Regions from separate parts of the Homo sapiens genome. Here region 1 is linked to region 2. The links come from fine-mapping of genetic effects on gene expression. Tissue or cell type: blood mononuclear cells. Region 2 holds a variant in brackets; the other region holds the start of a gene. All regions are shown on one strand. Distances are from middle to middle.

Region 1 (8,103 bases), 96 kb after region 2:
GAGATTGAGAGTGGTTGGCAGAAAATGAAGGAAGGGTGGTATTATTGATGATAAGGAAATCAAGTGTTCCAAGAAGGACAGACAGTTCATGGTGTCAAATATTGCTGAGAGGTCAAGTAAAGGAAAACTAAAAAATGCCCACTGGTGGCCAGGCACTATGGCTCACACCTGTAATCCCAGCACTTTGGGAGGCCAAAGCAGGTGGATTACTTGAGGTCAGGAGTTTGAGACCAGCCTGGGCAACAGAGCAAGACCCTGTCTCTACCAAAAAAATACAAAAAATTAGCCCGATGTGGTGGCACGCATCTGTGATCCCAACTACTCATAAGGCTGAGGTGGGAGGATTGCTTGAGCCCGGGGAGGTGAAGGTTGCAGTGAGCTGAGATTGTGCTACTGCACTCCAGCCTGGGTAACAGAGAGAGACCTTGTCTCAAAGGAAAAAAAAAGCCCACTGGTTTTAGAAACAGGGAGGTCAGTGGAGTAGGGAACAGCTCTGTTCTGGGCCCTGAGGACCTTGGACATCTTCACATAGCTGTGTGGCAAGGTCCATCACCGTGTGAACTGAGTTTGGCAGAATGCTTGGAGGTTCCTCCTGAAACTAAGGGAGACAAGCAACCTTGTAAGAAACGACAGTGACAGCAGCGCCCCTGGGCCCCTGGTTGGCTGCGTCTGGGATGCTCCCTTTGCCCCTCCTTGGGGTACAGCTGCGGACACACCACTGCCTGGCTGCAGTGTGGAGCTGGCGCCTCAGCAGCACCGTGGCCACCATCTGTGCTTTCTGTCATCTGGCCCCTATGGTTTGCTGTCATCTTGTGTGTCTAGGGACACAGGCTGCTGATCATGCTGTAGCTGTTTGAGTAAGAAATAAACAATCTAGGCTGGGCACAGTGGCACACACCTGTAATCCTAGCACTTTGGGAGGCCGACGCAGGTGGATCACTTGAGGTCAGGAGTTTGCCACCAGCCTGACTAATATGGTGAAACCCCGTCTCTACGAAATACAAAAAAATTAGCTGGACATGGTCCTGCATGCCTGTAATCCGAGCTACTTGTGAAGCTGAGACAGGAGAATCACTTGTACCTGGGAGGTGGAGGTTGCAGTGAGCCAAGATCTCACCATTGCGCTCCAGCGTGGGCAACAAGAGTAAAACTCCACCTCAAAAAAAAGAAAGAAAGAAACAATCTCTATCTTTTGTGCTCATTGCTGATCAAATCCATGTAAATATGGCAAACCAGCCTAGCATCTGTGGCAGTTGACGCCGGTAACCCTGTCAGCTGCTGGATTGCTGCCTAGGGACTGCTTGGATGCTTGGCAGTTGGTAGCCCTGTAAATAGGAAATATCCATTAGGAGAGCCTGCAGCCACCAGTCACAGAGTGATTACACGCCCCCTGTAGGAGATGTGAAAAAGAAAAAGAGGAAATCAAATATTCTGCAATCTTACAACTAGTAATGATGTATTTATTTTCAGCTTTTTATATACGTTTTTCAAGCACTTCCCAAGTATTTATAGAGTACTTACTATGTTCCAGGCTGGTGGCTGAGCAGTGAACAAACCAACCTAGGTCCTTATATCTGGAAACCTTAAGTTTGTGAACTTAAACACCCATATATACAATTGAGATCATATCATAAATATAATTTTGTATTCTATTTTTCACATTCTATTTCATAAGCATTACCCTCTGCCAATACTTTTTTTTCAAATACCACACATAATGGCTGCATAATGTTCAACTGAGTGTACAGAAGACAATAGATTTATCTATTTCTGTGCTGCAAAAAGCATAATTATCTTCCATTTCCCCTTCTATGAATAACTAGCTATTTTCCAAATTCTCCCCATTATTTAAAAAAAACCACACACACAACAAACTCTGGAATGGGCACCCTTCTCTTTGTCATTTTTGTTATTTCCATAGGATAGATTCCTAGATTAATTGAAGTGTTTAAGGCTCTTTATGTACAGCTTAATTCATTTTCAACATTGTACTAAACACGCTTCCTCAAGCATAGCAGTGCGTAATTCTCCACAATCTCCCCAGCACTGATATTAATAATGTAAGGCATCTTCTTAATCATGTGTGACTTTGCATGGTGCTTTAGACTTCTAGACATTCTCCATCCTCGTTGATCGTCTCAAGTTCAGATATAAAATTTCTGCCTTGATTCTAACACAGTGTACAGGGCCTACACTATATTCTGGGTGACAAGATGGCTTGGCTTTCCTTTCCTTCTCCCCCTGCTCCTAAGCTGGTCTCCTCACCTTTATCAAGTGCTATTTTTTCAACCATGCTTTATTGTGTAGGGGCCAAAGGGAAAGTTCCTCTTTGCCCTCTGAAGGTTCACTGAAAGCCAACTCATAAAAGGCAGATTTTTGGAGAAAAGGCAAATAAATGGATTATTTATTTATTTATTATTTATTTTTGAGATGGAGTCTCGCTCTGTCACCCAGGCTGGAGTGCAGTGGCGCGATCTCGGCTCACTGCAACCTCCGCCTCCCGGGTTCAAGCGATTCTCCCGCCTCAGCCTCCGGAGTAGCTGGGACTACAGACGCCCGCCACCACGCCCGGCCTTTACCGCCAGTTTTCACACAGAAAAGCGGGGGGAACATCAGAGTCGTGTTTTTAGGTTTTGTGGCTGGCTTTGGGGGTCTGGCCTCTGGGACTCGCCTTGGGTAAAAGGGATTCACTCTGTGAGGAGCCTCGCGGGAGAAAAGAACTGAGACTGGAGGCCTGGGAAGGTCAGAGGGAAACTGCCTCCCAGGCCTTCATTTTGGGGCGTTGTGTTCTGAGCCCCGATAATTGTAACATCTTCATAAGCGACTTTCTGGTGGTTATGGTGAATCGGGACACACGATGTATGGTGACCGACGGGGGAGCCGGGAGCCCAGCGGGGTTAGGGTTCAGGTGAGGGTTTAGGGTCGGGGCGAGCGCGGCGCGGCCCGGATGCGCAGCGTCACCGCGCCAGACCCTCCGCTCAGCTGCCGTGGGCTCTCCCCCTCCCCGACCATAGACGGCGCAGGCCTCCAGTCATCCCAGAGCGGCCCCGGAAGAATCCGGGCGGAACCGCGGCTGGCTTCCGGTTCCCGGCGTTCTCGGAGGCGTACTGAGGCCCCGCAGGGGGCGGGGAAGCCTGCGTGTGCGCAGCTCGGCCCGGCCCGCCCTCTTCATCCTAGCCCGCCCCCTCCCCGGCTCTGGACCCGGTTCTGTGGGAGGGTCCGTTCCGGGCTCGGTGCGACTGCGCAGCTCCTCGGCGCTTCCTCGGTGGCTTCCCCGGGTCGAGCAAACAGGTGGGGCAGTGTCGGACCAGGAAGGAGCGCCAAGCGGGCAGGCAGGCGGGGAGGGCGCGGGGAGGGCGCGGGGAGGCGGCGGCCAGTCCAGGAGGAGCCTGTTCTGGGTGCCGCGGGAGCCACCGACGGGCTGCAGAGGCCGGGAGGAGGCGACCGCGGCGCGGCCCTAGAAGGCTGGACTGAGGACCACAGCTGGCTTCCGGCCTCTCCCCGGAGCCTGGGGCCTTCGGCAGCATCCCCGCGGCCTCCTTCTCACGTCCTCAGCCTTGGTGAGGCTGCACCCTCACGTGGCTCTTTGCCCCAGGTTGGCCAGGCAGGTAGAACGGCCCTGCACCCCATTTCCAGGGCCTTCAGCAGGTCTGGACCACGGGAACTGCCAGCTTTCACCCCTTAGCCGGGCGTCCCTGGATCCCCCCGGGCTCTGGCTCTGGCCGTTCTGGGATTTCAGGAGTCACTGAGCAGTAGGGCACGTCGGCCCGTGCTGCATAGTGACCTGCCTCCCGCGACCCAGGAGGCCACAGCAGCAATCAGCTTCTGCCTCCTGGCCATCCTTCCACACCCCTGGTTGAATGGGGCTGAGCCTGAGTTCTCCCCACTGAAGGTAAGTTCGGGGAGACTTCAGGCCAGGGCAGTCTCCTGTCTTCTCTTGGAAACCACAGCAGCCCATGCACACAGAATGGCAGCCACATTCCAGCTTCCAGGGCACCAGGTGAGTTAACCCTCCTTCCTGCCCACCTCTTCATCTTCATCCCCATCCCAGTCAGAAGCTACTCTCCTCTGGAGCCGTGAGCCCGGCAACTGGTAAGGCCAGCCAGGGGCTCATAGCAACCGTGAGGAAAGGGTTCTGAGAGGTAGACTCGCCCTCCTGCAGGGAGAGGGGCTCTGAGCTCAGCTGGGTCCCCGTGTAGCTGAAGTTGGCTGGTCCTCAGCGCTCTCAGCTGCCCCATCAGGGACCTGCTGATACACAGTTCATACTGACCACAGCAGGGCCCTGGGTAGTGGGGCCCCACCAGGTCAGGGCCCTTTTAGTGCAGGCTGCTGCCCCGTGGGCATGGCCTGGGCAGCGGCGATGTTTTGTTGCAGGAGATGCCGCTGACCTTCCAGGATGTGGCCGTGTACTTCTCTCAGGCGGAGGGGCGGCAGCTGGGCCCCCAGCAGCGGGCGCTCTACCGGGATGTGATGCTGGAGAACTATGGGAACGTGGCCTCTCTGGGTGAGGCTCTCTGCACTTGGCCTGGTTCGCAGTGGGGGCCTCTGAGGAGCTTGGGAGGCTGCTTTGGCTCTTTGGATCCCAAAGAAGAGGGTCCTGCCCCTTGTCCCCGGGTATCAGTCTGATCTCTACAGAAGGAACATTTCCCATGGGAAAAGCCTGCCTTGCTCCCCAGTTCTAGGGACTTCACTCCCTGTTGCCAGTGGCCCCACTGGTGTCCCTCCAGTGGCAGGAGAGCTGATGAGTGGATTCTCCTTCAGTACTTAGTCTCAGCCCACGGGCCCCCTGACCAACACACGTGCAGGCGTACACACGTGCACACAGGGCCCATCTCTCCACACCTGGCCTGGAAGGCCCAGTGGGCCATGCCAGCTCACCAGTGTCCTCATCCTCAACAGGATTCCCTGTCCCTAAGCCGGAGTTGATCTCCCAGCTGGAGCAGGGGAAGGAACTTTGGGTCCTGAATCTTCTGGGAGCTGAGGAACCAGATATCTTGAAAAGCTGCCAGAAAGGTGAGAATGGATGGGATGCTAATCCTGGGAGCAGCCTCCCAATCCTGCCTTAAGAGGCTCCAAGCGAGGGACAGCTGGGGCATGGCGTTCATATTAATGGCCTCCCCCAGGGGCAGTCTCACAGATACAGCCCCTCTACAAATGTGAGCATGTGCACATGCTTTAGAAGTTTTATCTTGCTGGTCTGTTTCTTTGCTTTAAAAATATATATATACTACTTCTGATCATATTTTTGTTTTGGTGATTTACCTTGATAACAACTTCATTCCCTTCTTTATAATACACTTATTTCCTTTTGACAATAGATATCGGTACCCTACCATGTCCTTTTTATTCTTCACTCCATTCTCTCCTTCATTTGCCAAGTTTAGTCAGTAGTAGTCTTTTTTTTTTTTTTTTTTTTTTTTTCGAGACAGAATCTCACTCTGTCACCAGGCTGGAGTGCAGTGGCACGATCTCGGCTCACTGCAACCTCCACGTACCAGGCTCAGGCAATCCTCCCACCTCAGCTTTCCAAGTAGCTAGGACTACAGGCACATGTCACCATACCTGGCTAGTTTTTTTTTTATTTTTGTTGAGACAAGGTTTCACCACGTTGCCCAAACTGGTCTTAAATTCTTGAGATCAAGTGATCCATGTCGACCTCCCAAAGTGCTGAGATTACAAGCATGAGCCACTGCACCTGACCAGTGGCTTTTTTTAATGTTTACCTTTGTTCTATTGAATATACATCTACTACTTGATATGTCAGCTGTAAGTATTATCTTTGACTGCCAGCTACTGAGACAGTCAACAAGCTTGTTCTACTTTTCTCCCTTTTCCTCCTCATTCCTTTCCCAGTTTTTGTTGGTTATATTGTTTCTACACTGTCAGAACATATAACACTTTACAACTCATATCCGCAGCTTTGTTACTGGCTTATATCTCCAGTTAAGTATGTTATTAATAATTGTTTATCTCTGGTCCTTTTACCAAAAATTTCCCCATCTCTTGGTTGGCTGGAGCTTGTCTTCTAGTTTATTCAGAAAGGCTCGTGAAAAATATACCCCATATTTGTGCACATTCAAAATTGGTTGAATAAAGCATTTGGTTTCTACATGTAAGAGCTAAGATTGTAAAATTATATCGTTTTCTCAAAGTGCAGCTTAAGTTGCATCTCACAAAATTTTAATATGTTGTATTTTCATTAACATTTAGTTCAAAATGTTATCTAGTTTTTCTTGTGACTTCTTCTTTGACCCAATGATTATTTGGACATGCATTAATTTCCAGATAGTTGGTGTTTTCCTAGTTATCTTATTGTTATTGTCATTTAATTCCACTGTGGTCAGAGAACATACTCTGTATTATTTCATTCCTTTCATATTTGTTGCTTCTTGTTTTATGACCCCAAATGTGGTCTCTCCCAGTACAAATACCACGTGCACTGAAAAAGAATGTGTATTCTGCCATTTGGGGGTTAGATAAATATCAGTTAAGTCAAGGTGGTTGATGGTATTGTTCAGGTCTTCTGTATCCTTGCTGATTTTTTTTTTTTTTTTTTTTTTGGTCTAGTTATTCTTTCAGTTGCTGAGAGAGGGGTGTTAAAATACAGAAGTATGATTGTGGAATTGTCTTTTCTTCACTTTAATTTTTGTAGTGTTGGCTTCATGTATCTTGAAGCTGTATTATAAGACTTACTTCACTTATGACTATCATTATGAGAGATAAGAGAATTCCTGTTTGTCTCTGGTAATACATTTTGTTTTGAAATATATTTTATCTAATATTAATGTAGCAATTCCATCCTTCTTATACTTACTGTTAGCATAGTATATCTTCTTTCATCCATTTAATTTCAACCTGTCTTTACACTTAAAGTGAATCTCTTGCAGATATCATACAATTGGGTCTTGTTTCTTCATCCTAACAATCTTTGTCTTTTAATTGTAGTGTTTAGTCTGTTAATGTTTAATGTAATTGTTTATATGGTTCAGGAATGCACTTGTGCATAATATTTTATTTTTTACTTACATTTACCTCTTCTGTTTTTTAAATTCCTCTTTCCGGCCTTTATTTGGGTTATTTGAATACTTTTTATAACTCCATTTAAATTTTATTATTTGCTTTTTACATAATCTTTTTGCATTATTTTTTACAGTGATTTTCCTAAGGTTTACAGTATACATAAGTTTCCACAGTTTACTTACAGTTCATTTGTGTACTACTTCACATAAATCCAGAAATCTTGTAACCATCCCTCCCATCCTTTTTGTTATAGTTGTTATGTGTAATACATCTACATAACATTTTAAACTCAGAAAGACAATGTGATAATTTCAGTTTTAAACAGTTATATAGTTTATAAAAAAGGAAAAGGAAAAAGGCCAAATAAATAGTATTTTAGCTGTTTCTGACATGTAAGGACTTTAGAAGTCATCACTGTGTCCTAACAAGTAAAAAGCTGAACAAACTGAAAAATCAACAAATCTTAGCTCCATCAGAGAGGTGTGAGGTCAGAGGACAAATCACTGCTCTCAAAATTGGAGAGGTATGGCCGGGTGCGGTGGCTCACACCTGTAATCCCAGCACTTTGGGAGGCCGAGGCAGGTGGATCAGTTGAGGCCAGGAGTTCAAGACCAGCCTGGCCAACATGGTGAAACCCTGTCTCTATTAAAAACACAAAATTAGCTGGGCGTGGTGGTGGGTTCCTGTAATCCCAGCTACTCGGGAGGCTGAGGCAGGAGAATCGCTGAAACTCAGGAGGTAAAGGTTGCAGTGAGCCAAGATTGCACTACTGCACTCCAGCCTGAGTGACAGAGCGAGACTCTAAAAAAAAAAAAAGAAAAAAAAAAAACTCTGGAGAGATAAACAGGCAGATACAAAGAATCACAACCACATCTTGTGAGCAATAATCTCCCAGGGAACCGGTGGCCAGATGGGTAAGCCTAAAATGTAACTGGCAAATTGCTAGAGGCTCAGTGTGGACAACTCTGAAAAAAAACTCCAGGGGGACCCGGTCATGGGAGGACCCCATACTTTTGTGAGCTTTACCTCCAGGAGCTCTATTAGGTACTGACAGTGAATATCAGAGAAAAATCTCCTTGTGCT
Region 2 (8,103 bases):
TCAGGAGGGGGTGGGTCTGCCACGTAACCACCGCCCAGACCTCACAAGTGATAGCACTTCACCTTTTTGCTTCAGATATTTTAAAGAGAAATAACACCTTACAGATGCAGTCTCTTTCTAAACTTCCCAGATCCATTCCCTTTAAACAATCCTCCCTCAGCATGGTTTTTAGACTTGATTTGTTTTGTCTTAGAAATGGAGTCTTGCCATGTTCCCCAGGCTGGTCTCAAATTCCTGAACTGAAGTGGTCCTCACTCTGCCTCTCAAATAGCTGGGACTATAGGTTGCCCTCACCTCCTGCTGTGAGGTCAGTTCCTAACAGGCCACTGACCTGTAGCGGTCCACAGCCTGAGGGTTGGGGACCCCTGCTATAGGTGCACACCACCACACCTGTTTTTTTTTTTAATTTTGTAAAAATGAAGCCTTGATATGTCGCCCAGGCTGGTCTTGAACTCCTAGCCTCAAGTGGTCCTCCCACCTAGTCCTCATAAAGTACTGGGATTGTAGGCATGAGCCACTGCACCCAGTCTCCACTCCTATTTATTATTGAACACTATTCCATTGTATGGCTGATGTGGTTTGCATCTGTGTCCCCGCCCAAACCTCATGCTGAAAGGTAATACCCAATGCTGGAGGTGGAGACTGGTGGGAAGTGATTGGATCGTGGGGGTGGCTTTTCATGAATGGTTTAGTACCATGCCCTTAAGTTATGGTCTCATGATAGAGTTCTCCTGAGATCTGGTTGTCCACCTCCGCCTCCCAAAGTGCTGGGATTACAGGCGTGAGCCACCGCACCCAACCTGTCATTTTTATTATAACCCTTCTAATGGTATGAAATGGCACCTCCCCGTGGCTTCCATTCGCATTTCTCTAATAGCCAACAATGCCGAAGGCTTCATGTACCCATTACCCACTTTGTATCTTCCTTGATGTCTACTCACATCTTCTGCCCATTTAATTAGGTTGTTTCCCTTTTCAGAGTTTTTTTTTTTTTTTTAAGTTTTATTGGGCTATAATTCACATACCATATAATTCACCCATTTTGTACAATTCAATGATTTTGGCATATTATTTTTTAACTATGGTAAAGTACATGTTAAATAAAATGGCTCGGCCATTGTTTCGGACCGAGCTCCTGCGCTAGGGCCCAACAGAGCAGCCCAAAGCGGAACCGAGTCACGCGCGCCGGACGCCACCCGACAGGAGGGGAAACGGGGCAGCTCTCAAAACCCTGGAGGCGCAGACCGTCCACACGGGACAGGGACGCCCGCTCGGCTCCGCTCCGCGCTGATCCTCAAGGTCTCGCGGTTTCCCCGCCGCCCACCCGGACGCCGACGAAAGCCAGCGAGCTCCTCAGCCTCAGGTGACTGGAATTCTGACCCCAGACCACGGGACGCGTTCTCCCGCTTTACCCTCACTCTGCGCGGGCGGGGAGGGAGACGCGGGCGCAGGCCGCAGTTTCTACCTCAGAAACGGAAACACAACACCGCCTTCTTTTTCTTTGGGGAAAGAAAAAAAAAAAACTGTCTAAGACGAGGTCTGGGACCCCGCCGGCGACCCCCGATTCCCCCGGGCGGGGAGGGGGCGGGACCTGGCGCGGCCTCGGCTCCGCCCCTCGGGCCAGCGGACCACAGTGGGGCGGTCATTGCTGCCTTCCTAGAGCGGCCCGGAAGTGGCTCTCAGGGCGCTTCCGGGGACCAGGCCCGCTTTTGGCTGCATCAGCCGGGGATTGCCGGCGCCAGGTGCTGGGGGCGACTCGGACAGCGGGAGCGTGGGGTGGAGTAGGATGGAGTCTCCCTCCCGAGCTGGGGGTGTGGGCCTAGGAAAGGCTGCTTCGCCGCTGTGTTCGGAGAGCTCTGGATACTGCGGGGCTTTTCCGCGGAGGAGCGCCCGCCGGTAGGTTGGCCCCGAACCGTGGGGGCGGCGACGGCCGAGTGCCAATTTGACTCTGTGCACCAAGGTCCCCGCGCCCCGGAACGGGCGACGCCGCGCCCCCATCAGAGCCGCGGGTACGGAGTCAGGGTGCGAACCCGGCCTTCCAAGCCGCGCGACCGGAAGCGGGCAGCTCGGAGGCCTTCCCGGATGGCTCTTTGGAGTGGGAAGGAGCTCCTGGTGCTGGCGGGACGGTGAAGGAGTTGGCAGTGGGTGGTCGTTGACTCCCAGGGAGAATGGGGCGCCGTGAAGCCCGTGGGGAGCTCCTGGGCTCCCCCAGCGCTGTGCAGAGTGGCCTGACAAGTGCCTCGAGGACAGGAGCTGTGCCCCGCTGAGCTCTGCTCCAGTACCTGGTGTGCTGAGGTGGGCACGTGCGTTTCCTCTGGCATAGCAGGTGCTTGTGCTGCTGCACTGCTCCTTCAGGTGCGTCGGAACCCTCTTTAGTTGCCGCACTTGCCTCTGTTGCCAGCCGTTGCTCAGCTCTTCCAGCCCGGGGGTTGGGGCTGTGGTGGAAACAGCTGGGACTTCTGAATAGACAGGTCTAGGCTTCAGTCCTTGACTTTGGCAGCTGTGTTTAGAGCTTTGATTTCTTTTTACTTTTCTTTTCTTCTTCCCTGCCTCCCCTCCCTCCCCCCTCCCTCCATTCGTTCGTTCCTTCCTTCCTTCCTCACAGCATCTCTGTTGTCCAGGCTGGAGTGCAGCGGCTCGATTTCGTCTCACTGCAGCCACGACTTCCTGGGCTCAAGGGATCCTCTGTCCTCTCAGCCTTCTGAGTAGCTGGGACTACAGACGTGCACCACCACGCCTGGCTAGTTTTTTAAATTTTTTGTAGAAACGGGGTCTTGCTATGATGCCCAGGTTGGTCTCCAACTCCTGGGCTCAAGCGATCCGCTGGCCTCACCTTCACAAAGTGCTGAGATTTCAGGCTTGAGCCACTGCACCTGGCCTAGAGCCTTATCTCCCTCTCTGTCAGGTGAGAATGGTAATTCTTCTTGCCCACTGTTGTGAAGGATTCAAGATTGAATAGTTAAATGGTCTCAGTGTGGTCTGTGGCGCCAGCTGCAGTGTCCCTGTGTTCCCCGGACCGTTCCCCTAGTTCATTCTTTCATCTATTAATTTACTTGGAGAACTTGTGCTGTTTCCTGGTCCTCCTCCCTGCCCCCTACTTCTCTGCCAATTCCTGCTTGTCCTTCATGCCTTAGATGTCACTTCCTCTGGGAGGCCTCCGCTCCTCCTGGGACTGACATGGACCCCTCTGCCACCTGCTTCCAGGGCCATCTCCGCAGCACTGACTGTCATTGGTAGTTCACACTGTCAGCATGCTGATGATGGGGACCATATCAACCCTCACTCGCTGGCCCAAAGGATGTGAGAGTCACTGGTCTTCTCTCCTCCACCCCACTCTAGGCATCTGCATCTGGGACCGACCTCCTGGGCTGGCTGATCAAAGAGGAAGCAGCAGCAATGTCTGCTGTGGGGGCTGCAACTCCATACCTGCATCATCCTGGTGATAGTCACAGTGGCCGAGTGAGTTTCTTGGGGGCCCAGCTTCCTCCAGAGGTGGCAGCAATGGCCCGGCTACTAGGGGACCTAGACAGGAGCACGTTCAGAAAGTTGCTGAAGTTTGTGGTCAGCAGCCTGCAGGGGGAGGACTGCCGAGAGGCTGTGCAGCGTCTTGGGGTCAGCGCCAACCTGCCGGAGGAGCAGCTGGGTGCCCTGCTGGCAGGCATGCACACACTGCTCCAGCAGGCCCTCCGTCTGCCCCCCACCAGCCTGAAGCCTGACACCTTCAGGGACCAGCTCCAGGAGCTCTGCATCCCCCAAGACCTGGTCGGGGACTTGGCCAGCGTGGTATTTGGGAGCCAGCGGCCCCTCCTTGATTCTGTGGCCCAGCAGCAGGGGGCCTGGCTGCCGCATGTTGCTGACTTTCGGTGGCGGGTGGATGTAGCAATCTCCACCAGTGCCCTGGCTCGCTCCCTGCAGCCGAGCGTCCTGATGCAGCTGAAGCTTTCAGATGGGTCAGCATACCGCTTTGAGGTCCCCACAGCCAAGTTCCAGGAGCTGCGGTACAGCGTGGCCCTGGTCCTAAAGGAGATGGCAGATCTGGAGAAGAGGTGTGAGCGCAGACTGCAGGACTGACCCCTCACTTGACCAGTCCCATTCAGATCCGGCTTGGACAGGCACCTGAGATGGTGCCAAAGTGCAGCTGACTCTTCCCACGACAGCCCTGCCCTTCCCATGAGGCAGGCTCTTCAGTGAGTGTTTGAACGTAATTATGTAGTTTTCTGTTTAATTGAAAAAGAGAGCTATGCCTTTTTTTCTTTTTGGAAGTAAAGCAGCTAAAAACATGTTTCTATAGGTGAGTGTTGGACCTCACACCCTCCCCTTCCCTGTACATTTGTCTTTGGTGCTGGACGTGGCCATGTGAGGCCAGGTTGAGGCCCTTTGTAGACAACATACAGTTGCTCAGCCTGGCCCCATGTAGCCAGGTGCTTTTGTAGATCTTGTGTTTTAGGTTGGGCATTTTCACTCTTCTGCCTTAAATCCCTGACCCCATGGAGCTGACATTCTAGTGCGGCTGAGGGGAGGGGAAACATTGTAAAATAAATCATAAAAATTAACTGGAATAGCTCATCAGAGGATGGCGTGTGATGCAGCAAGTAGGGTGGGGTCTGCGTGCTGATGGGGCGACCTTCCTTGAGGGTGTGACATCTGAGCGAGGACTTGAAGGAGCCGGGGGCACAGCGCTCTGAGGGGAGCAGCACAAGGTGGGGAGGACGGGGCTCAGGCGGCCAGTGTGGGGAGGCCTGACGTGCTTAAGGCCCGCCTGGCTGCAGCCAAGCAGGTGGAGATCATTGTGGGGAGGCGACGTTGGGGAGGGTACAGAGGTCAAGGCCTGA[G/A]AGCCTTTTAAGGACTTTGGCTCAATTCTGAGTGACAGAGGAGCCCTTCTGAGGGTTTTCAGCAGAGGAGAGACGTGATCTGGTGATTGGCTGCTGTGTGGAGGGGTGCAAGGGAGGAGGCTAGAGCCCAGCAGAGAGGCTGTCACCAGGGTGGAGTTGGTGGCAGGGACCTCTCCCGGGTGCCTCTAGGGCAGGTGTGTGCAGGGGTTGTAGCCAGCTTTGCAGCTTCCAGCATAACTGTGTTCCAGGAGGGGCCTTGGTGCTCGGTCTCTGCAGAGCCATTTTCGGTCAGCTGGCTTCCAGCTGACTGTTCCTGCCTCCGTGGAGCACTTCTGGACCATGTCTAGTCTGTTCTCTGCTGAGAAACCTCCCCTTGTCTTTGAGTGCCTGGGGTTGCTTGGCTGTTTGTCTTGTCTGCAGTTTTTGGGTTGTCTCCTCCACTAGCCTGGATTTCTTCCTCATCCCTCCATGGGCAGTTCTGACATGTCAGGGTACAGAGGAGTACCTGGGGGTGGGGTCAGTAGACTCTGGGAGGAGCCCAGGTGCCCTCTAAGGTGCATGCTTGTGGGTCCTGCCATCTGGTCGATCACTCAGCTTTGTCCCACCCTCACTGAGTTCCAGGTAAAGCCCTTCTCTCTCCCCGAAGGCACTGTCCCCCCACTGTCATCGGATCAGGAATATGACCAGCCACTTCCTGCATTCTCTGTCCCCAGATGTGGATGGGGCTGGGGCAGCTGGGACCATGTTGCCTTTCTCACTCACTGGCCCTGGCCCTGCAGGAACAGCAGCTTTAGGGACAGCCCCATCCTTCTGCTTCTCCCAGCTGCTTAGCAAAGCCTGTGTGGAGCCCAGAGCATGGACCTGCCCTCGGTCCTCAGGCTGACCTCTCGCCGTCTCTCATTGGGAATCTGTGTTTGCCTCAATTCATCTGTGAACCCTTGGGCTTGTCTCAAGCGGGGACCCAGGCAAATCAAGACACAGCCATGAAAAGACAGCTTATGAGACACAGGCAGGGGAGTGGGCCATTCCTGGGACTGGGGCTGGCACTGCCCGAGTATAGGGGATTGAGGGATGGGGGATCAAGTGCAGGGACAGCGGCTGGCCTCAAGGCCACACACAGGATTTTGGTCATTCCACTGGGGCAAGGGGGAGCAGTGGGGTTTTAATCAGGGCAGACATGATCCAGTTGGACTTGAGATCCCTACAGCGTGGAGCAGACTTAGAGGCCACTTCCTCTGACTCAGCAGTGAGCAAACTCTTCCCACAAAGGGCCAGAGAGTAAACATTTTAGATTTTGTGGGCCATGAAGTTTCTGTCCACCCTGCCATGGTGGCTTGAAAGCAGTCACACAATACGTAAACAAATGTATATGGCTGTGTTCCAATACCATCTTTTTTTTTTTTTGAGACGGGAGTTTCACTCCTGTTGCCCAGGCTGGTGTGCAGTGGCACGATCTCGACTCATTGCAACCTCTGCCTCCCAGGTTCAAGCAATTCTCATGTCTCAGCCTCCCAGGCAGCTGGGATTACAGGCATGAGCCACCGAGCCTGGCCTCCAATGATATTTTTTTAATGGATATTGAAATTTTCCTTTTTTTTTGAGACAAGGTCTCCCCATCATCCAGTCTGGAATGCAATGGCACGATCATGGCTCACTGTAGCCTCAACCTCCTGGGCTCACAGGCACACCACACCACACCCGGCTAATTTTCAGATTTTTTGTAGAGATGGGGTTTTGCCACGTTGCCCAGGCTGGTCTTGAATTCCTGGGCTCTGGTGATCTGCCCACCTCGGCCTCCCAAAGTGCTGGTTTTACAGCAATGAGCCACCACACCCAGCCATGAAATTTTAATTTCATGTGTCACAAAGTATTTTTTTCCATTGAAAAACCATTCTTAGTCCAGGCATGGTTGGCGCCAACCCCATGAGCCCACTGGACCCCTCCAGTACAGAGCACCTGTCCATCCTTGTCAGTGGCCAGTCTCCATTAGACCTGGACTCCAGGGCAGAGGCCAGCCCTGTCCATCTTTGTCCCCGTGGCTTGCACAAGGCCTTGCACAGAGAACGGATGTCTGCATCTGGGAAATTACTCCCTTGGTTTTCTTGGCCTTAGTTCTCTGTGGAAACTTGCTGGTGATTTCCCTCTCCTGTGGCACTGTCCTGAGCTCAAAGCCTGGATGCCTCCCCACCTGCATCACTCACTCATTCAGCAAACATTTCTGGGGCTCTGAGTCAAGCTGCATGCACTGGGGACTTGAGGATTTATAAAATGGCCTGGACCCGGCCCTTGCTCTGCTTCACTTTGTGAAGCTTCCAGAAAGGTCCAGATAGTTTCAATTCAGTGTCATAAATGAAAGATTATTCTGATAGTTGAGATAAAAAGCAATTCCAGGCCTAGGTTATAGATTTAATTTATTGTCTCCAAAACAGAAACCCAAAATGTTTTTATTTATATATTGTGGAGACAGGGCCTCACTCTGTCACCCAGGCTAGAGTGCAGTGGTGCGATCACAGCTCACTGTGGTCTCCGAACTCCTGGGGTCACGTGATCCTTCCTTGGCCTCTCAAAGTGCTGGAATTACAGGCGTGAGCCACCGTGCCTGGCCTGGAAACTCTTTAGATGAGCTTACCGAAGCCCGAATTGCAGTGCAGTGTGAACAGGTTAACAGGATATTCTAGCACCTGCACTACCCCATGAGCAGCCCCTCTTCCTCTCCCTCTCCACAAAAGAACCACCAGCCTGTGTGCCAGGGGCCACCTGGATGCTTCCATGTGATACTCAGATCTCAAAGCTGTGCAGTAGCTTGAATTTAAGTCATGTGCTCACACCCTTGGCTCTCAGCAAGCTGCCCCATGGACATGATGTGTCATTTCCACATCGTGCAGCTAGAAGAGGACTCCTCCTCAGCTCGGCATGGTGGCTCACGCCTGTCATCCCAGCACTTAGGGAGGCCGAGGCGGGCGGATCACGAGGTCAGAAGATCGAGACCAGCTGGCTAACACAGTGAAACCCCGTCTCTATTAAAAATACAAAAAAATTAGCCGGGCGTGGTAGCAGGCACCTGTAGTCCCAGCTACTCGGGAGGCTGAGGCAGGAGAATGGCGTGAACCCAGGTGGCGGAGCTTGCAGTGAGCCGAGACCGCACCACTGCACTTCAGCCTGAGGGACAGAGCGAGATTCCGTCTCAAAAAAAAAGAAGACTCCTCCTCCCATCCCTCCGTGGCTAATATCTAACCTGGATTGTTGGACTTTAGGTTTACTTCTATTGAAC

The links. PIP is the estimated chance that this variant, and not a neighbour inherited with it, causes the effect.
Region 1: ZNF251 starts here. The variant in region 2 is fine-mapped to the expression of ZNF251 in blood mononuclear cells (TOPMed, PIP 0.97).

Annotation. Positions count from the first base shown.
Region 1 is chr8:144,750,593-144,758,695 of GRCh38, reverse strand. It overlaps ZNF251 (zinc finger protein 251), which reads left to right and starts at 3,165. Exons shown (of 5, transcript NM_138367.2): 1 at 3,165-3,291; 2 at 3,893-4,000; 3 at 4,375-4,504; 4 at 4,900-5,013. The coding sequence starts at 3,968. LOC107986986 (a long non-coding RNA gene) reads right to left here. Exons shown (of 3, transcript XR_001746149.3): 3 at 1-1,390.
Region 2 is chr8:144,846,632-144,854,734 of GRCh38, reverse strand. It overlaps COMMD5 (COMM domain containing 5), which reads left to right and starts at 1,687. Exons shown (of 2, transcript NM_014066.4): 1 at 1,687-1,896; 2 at 3,340-4,559. The coding sequence starts at 3,397. The coding sequence ends at 4,071. It also overlaps a transcript of ZNF7 not described here. RefSeq lists enhancers at 1,067-1,166, 1,717-2,046, 1,624-2,472 and silencers at 1,457-1,646, 3,679-3,830. The variant G/A (reference allele first, on the strand shown) is at 4,833.